Linked DNA regions of Homo sapiens: region 2 is linked to region 1. Evidence: fine-mapped expression QTL. A gene starts in region 1. The other region holds a variant in brackets. All regions are shown on one strand. Distances are from middle to middle.

Region 1 (2,921 bases):
TCTCTGACACATTCCTTAAAATCTGAATTCCTAGATAATGTCTTCTTCCCCAATAAAGGGAAAATTTTACCATTTGAAATAGGGTGCTATTTAAAGAACGCTGAAATAAGAATGTTAAAAAAAAAAAACTGAAACTTTTTTTTCTCATGCGCTCTGCCAAGTTCCATTGCAAGTTCCAAACATTGTGCAATAATTTGGAAATCCAGTTAACGATGGGAAAAATCGAGCCACTCAGAGTCGGCAACTTGCAAGAGAAAAGTCAAGAAGCGGCACCCGCACGCACGCCTGCCCAACGGACGCTGCATCCCTGGGCGCACGCCCCTCCCTCCCCAGCGCTGGGATGGAAGGTCACGCTTCACAATCGATTTCACAGCCACTTGTCCTTTTTTATCAACCTTCTGGTAAACTAGTTTAGGACTTTGGAGGGCTTAGAGCTGCTGGCTGTATACGCATTGCTCTCGAATAAACACGTGTCCCCAAATATCAGGACCAAAGCTTCACCGCCGAATTTGGCCGCAGGAAGCCACAGAGGGCAACACATTCCCATCTTCCCTGCTGCCACCCTCCAGTGCGAGAATCTCCCCTAGTATCTCTCCGCCCCTTTTCCAGCCCGGCGCGCACTCTCGAGGGTGCCTGGCGCGCCCTTACCTGAGCTGTCGCTTTTCCTCTTGCCGCCGCTTCGCTTCTCCGCCTCCGCAGGTGACAGTGCCTGGCGGCCGTAGTCCCCCGGCGCGCACGCGGCCCCAGTCGGGGTGCTGGAGCCCAAGCTGGAAGAGTTGGAGCACAGGACGGGCGGGCTGCTCCCCAACTCTGGGGGCCCTCCAGAGTCGGGCTGGAGGCAGAGGCTGTGCCGAGCCGCACTCGGTGGGGAAGACATCTGCGGGAGGTGCCAGTTGGTTTGCAGAGCCTGGTGCTGCTGCTGCTGATGGTGGTGATGGTGGTGGTGGTGGTGGTGGTGGTGGTGCCCCCTGTGATGCTGGCTGGCAAACATGCCCTCTTCGTTGGGGTATCCCGCGATTATGCAAGATGAGGAAGAAGTAGAGAGCTCGGGGTAAGACATATGGTCAGATCTTCCATGGAGGGCGAGAGAGGATTGGGAGAACGGGTGCAAGCCTTGCGCCGTGGCGTGAGGGCTGCGCAGGCAGCCAAAGAGCGGGTGTTCCATAGCATGCAAGTTTCGGGTTCCAGGCAGAAGACTTCACGGCGGTTCCAAAGGCCACCACCCTCTGTCACTTTTTCACTGGAAACCGTGTGATTTTTTTTTTAACCTCCCAAAGCAATAGCGGTGCACTTCTGCAGAGCTCGGATAATCCCGGTCCTGAGCCCCAGCGGCCAGTCTCCTTTACATATGAACAGTCGGACCTGGAAGAGCTTCCCTGAGCTACTCAGATGTCAAGAGTGGGAGAGGTTGAAGCCAAAAGAAGGTGGTCCCAGAGAACTGCTTTCAGGGGGAAATGGCTCTGAGAAGTTATAAATAGAGTGTAACGTGAGCTGGGGGCTGGCTTAGGAGCCCAGAGTTGACCACATGCAAACTCCCTCCAAAACTCCCGCTCAGCCTGCGCCACGCGCTCCCAGTTCCACTTCCTATCTCCTGCTGGACGGACGTAGAGCGTCCACGCCCGCCCAGCACTGCCGGCTGCCAGGACTACAAGCGGCACGCCAACGTCTAAGTCCCGCCCGGGAGGGCAGCAGCTCTGCCCTCCAGACTCTGGAGGCCTGGGCGCGGCGCACACCACCCCCAACCTAGCACCCTGATTCCTACCTACTCACTTTCCTCTCGGGGAAACGTGACTTGTCAGTGTCATTTGGGAACTGTCACCTGCAGAAAAGCTAGGGATACGCCTATCCTTTCAGGAACACGAAAGAAGTAATAGGGTTAAAGGAAAAGACCAGAGCTAGTTTGGCGCACCCTCGAAGTTTTTCAAACTTTGCATCTTCCCGTGCCCCGGGCGCCGCAGCGCGCCTAGGTTTTCGCAGCTGGTTTCTGTCGGTGGGTTGTTAATAGGCTGGGACGCCAGATCTGAGGTTGCGGGGATGAGCACCATGGCCTGGAAAAGGCGGTTCTCAGTGCAGAAAGAAGACGGACCTGGTTGGGTGGGTGGGAGGAAGGCGTGAGTCTGAAAGGGTTGCAGATGCCTGCTCCCTGGCATCCTCACGTGCGATGCCAGGTGGAGGCTCCCTTCCCCCTCTTTCCCGGTCCCGCTCAATTTCCTAGCCACTTGTCCACCAAGAAGAACTTTTCCTGGGTCAAGAATATTTCCAAGCGATTGTGTCCCGGTCATATGAGATGTGTAGATTGCACGCGCATTTCTAGCCTTTCCCCTCAGGAGCTAGCCCAGATCTCCTCGGTTTCCTCCAGAAATCCACTCTCTTCTGCTCAAAAATAAATCCGCTAATGCATTCCTTACCACCAGGGTTCCATTTACTGAGAATTCTTACATTTCGATAGCTCCCAAAATTCACTCACCGTGGGCACTTGGTTACAATTTTGCACCCCTGAAAATAAAATAGAAAACTCGCCTCTAGTAAGCATGCGAGAGCGAGGGCAGGGCTTTGAAGCTGCTACTTGCTTGGCGGGCGACAGGGTCCGCTGGGGGCAGAGTCGTTTACACACAAGTGAGTGGCGCTGTAATGAGCAGGAGGAACAGTCATGTCCCATCTGCGACCTGTCGCATCAGGAGAATATCTGTAGTCACCTATTCTGCCCGGGGCCCCAAATGCGCCACCAGCAGTGTCGCCCCGTTTTTTCATTGTCTCAGGTGTCCAGAGGATGATGACCAGGTCTTTGAAGTTGTTAGTGGGATTAATGGGTACAGCAAACTGGGCTAGACATCTGGTTTGAATTAGGAAAAAGCATTGATTAATCTTTGAGAGGTGTCCCCAAAGCAGAACCTTTCCCCTCCTCTTCCAGTCCCCTTGCT
Region 2 (2,921 bases), 50 kb after region 1:
TTGAAATCATGAGATCCATATATTTGGAGAGGAGAGCTTTGTTTCTTATAAAGGGTTTCCGCCTGCAGGCTGGCCACCCTGCAGACTGGGAAGCATAGCCTCCAGCAGAAATCAAAAGCAGGTACTTCAATGGAAGAAGGATGAGACAGGAATTTATACTGGACAGGATGGCTAAGTATACATATCAACAAGTTATAAAAAGAGTTATGAATATTCACAAGGGACACACATATGCTAGTAAGCAAACATACATATTACATATGTCACATGTTCACTTTAGGATGGAGAATTAACATTTAAATGTATTAAAATTAGGCTGTATACATTAAAAGATGACAGACATCTTGTGGGCAGCCTCTGTATCTGGCCAGAACCAGTCCATGGCTGGTAGTAAAAAATCAGAAAGGAATGTGCTATGAAACTGGTGAGCTGCTGTGTAGAAACTACAAGAAGGGAGAGGATTCCAGCTGCAGTGTCCAGCAGTTGGCTGAAATCAGCAAAGGAGTGAGTTTTCATTTCTTTATTTTTCCAGGGCCAGTTTCTGTTTAACCCTTAGAAAATAATCTAGTAAAGATTGGCAAGGAATGAGGTACACCAAGAGGTACTCAACCTCCCACCTTGTCATGACCAGGAAACTCAATTTTTCAAAGTTTTTCTGGAGTCTTCTTGGGCAACAGGTGTCTGCTCAGTCAGTTGCAGGGCTTAGGATTTTATTTTTATTTCACAATCTTTACAAAAATGTAAATTGATAAATAAGATAGAATATCTATGTAACGAAATTATACTCTGCAACACGGAAACATATGAAAATAATTATGCTGAATATAAGACGTCAGATGAAAAAGAGTTCATAGTGAATGATTCCATTGTATATAAAATTTCAGAAAATATAAATGAATCTATAGTGACTGAAAGCAGATTAGTGGTTTATTGGGTTTGGGGGATGCTGGGGAGTGTTGAGAGGGAAGAATTACAAAGCCTGATGAGAAAATATTTGGGAATCATGTCTGAGCTCATTATCTTGAGTGTAATGATAAATTCTCATCAGATGATTGATAGATGACAGATACATAGATAGATAACTAAATATGTTATGTCAACTATAGCTCGTTAAAATTATTTTGAATACAACAAGATAGTTTGAACAGAATTCTAAGTACAAGGTAGAAAAGAAATTTATGTTATTGGAGGACAAAGGAATTGGTGATCACTGAGAACTGGAGCAGGTACCGGAGATATTTTAGAAAGTATGAGACTTAGGCTGTATGTTGAAGGCAATGGGTGTGTTCATGAAGATAATTTATGATTCAAAAAATGGGCCCTGTTTTTGGATGATGTCAAACACCACCAGTTTCCTATCACTGTACATAGAAAGAATACGCCTCTATATGGTGCAAGCAAAAAACAATTGTATTCAATTTCCCTTTTGCCCATTCAAAACTTTCTCACGAGGCTAGTTATTTTCTGTTCCTGGGTGACATCTACAGCAGTCCGCATGTTGTAGCCTAGTCGTAGTTCAGGAATTAAAATGTCCAGATAATTTAATTGTCTAAACTCCCAATTTTATTTCTGGTCAGTGATCTTTCTTCATCCCTCCTTGTTGTACCTTTTCAGGTA[C/T]GGAGCCTGCAATGAAAAAGGGAATGTGTCTCCATCATTTCTATTTTGTAACTATTGCTTCTTTTTGTCCCCAGGTTTCTATCCTCTATAGCATAAGAAGAATTAGAAAAAAGAGCAGTGAGCGAAGAAACATTATGACTTGTCTGTTACTGTTGTGATCCTGCTTTAGGAAACGTTTACATCTGACTCTTTCACGAAGTCCTACTGCACTTCCCCTGACTTGGATAATAAATTGTATTATTTTTCCCTTCCCACTCAGTCTTAGATTTCTGAAGATATATCCCTTTGGTTGAGATCATATCAAACCTGCAGATGGTCCTCTTCATCACAGTTGAAATCAATCTCTGACCCGTTATTTCTCACTTGGCACAATCCCTGTATCACAAAAAACACATTGCAGGGAAGTCTGTGATGGCTGCTTTGCCGCTCTCTTTTCCTGTTTCTCTCAGAGATTGCTCAGGAACCTGTATGTTCTGTTTTTTGACTTCAGGAGCTGTATATATATATATATATATATATATATCTCCAGGAGACATATGTATTGTATATATATGTATATACATGTACATGAATGTATATATAGATACATTTATATCTTATATATACATTCATATACAGATACAGATATACAGATACATATATCTATACATTCATATCCACATACAGATATACAGATACATATACATATGTATATATCTCAAGCTCTCTAGGTGATTAGATTAAAGATCCCATAGCTGACTTCAGTTAAGGCTAGGGCACCCTCCATTCTTTTTTGCCTCTTTGAATAGAGACAAAAAAAAAATCCATAGCAGTTCAGCAACTGTATAAAAAAAAATCCTCTTAGCTCTTTAACCTGAAAAATGTTGTGCTATAAAGGATATGTAGCTAGAGTTCAAGAAACTGTTTGCATTTTTGTTTCTGCACTGTTTCCTTTGCTAGTCATATATAGGCAGTAGTATATCACCTCAGTGTGGAATGTGGAAGCACTTGCCTGCTATTGTTTTCGTCTTGGAATTTGAAGTCTCCACCAAAACTAAAAAGAAAGGTTTCCATTTGAACATCCTGTTACAAGAATGTATACTGCCAAGGATGTGATGTAATTGAATTTGACTATCAAATCTGTAGTTCTCAGAACATAGAATTGCAAGAGGCATCACTTATGAGCAACTTGCAAGAACGTGTGATTAGTTTGGGTATTTAATTTTTTGTTTATTTGCATTTATTTCAGACTCTGTGCCAATATGCTGTTAAGATTTATATTGAATAACAAAACAAGATTATGAATAATTCTATAAATGTCAAAA

Alleles and levels. Positions count from the first base shown, and alleles are read on the strand shown. Sizes are in standard deviations (SD) of each study's normalised expression.
With allele C in place of T in region 2, the expression in anterior cingulate cortex of the gene that starts at base 1,446 in region 1 is higher (moderate effect, 0.43 SD a copy in GTEx).

The links.
Region 2: its variant is fine-mapped to the expression of MEOX2 in anterior cingulate cortex (GTEx, PIP above 0.99). The same link has a PIP of 0.9 or more in cerebellar hemisphere, cerebellum and prefrontal cortex.

The regions. Positions count from the first base shown.
Region 1 is chr7:15,685,238-15,688,158 of GRCh38, forward strand. It overlaps MEOX2 (mesenchyme homeobox 2), which reads right to left and starts at 1,446. Exons shown (of 3, transcript NM_005924.5): 1 at 649-1,446. The coding sequence starts at 1,165. RefSeq lists an enhancer at 1-642.
Region 2 is chr7:15,735,147-15,738,067 of GRCh38, forward strand. LOC105375167 (a long non-coding RNA gene) reads right to left here. Exons shown (of 3, transcript XR_927058.2): 3 at 28-1,623. Among named protein-coding and RNA genes, the nearest start is that of LINC02587, 48 kb to the left of the region's middle. The variant C/T (reference allele first, on the strand shown) is at 1,618.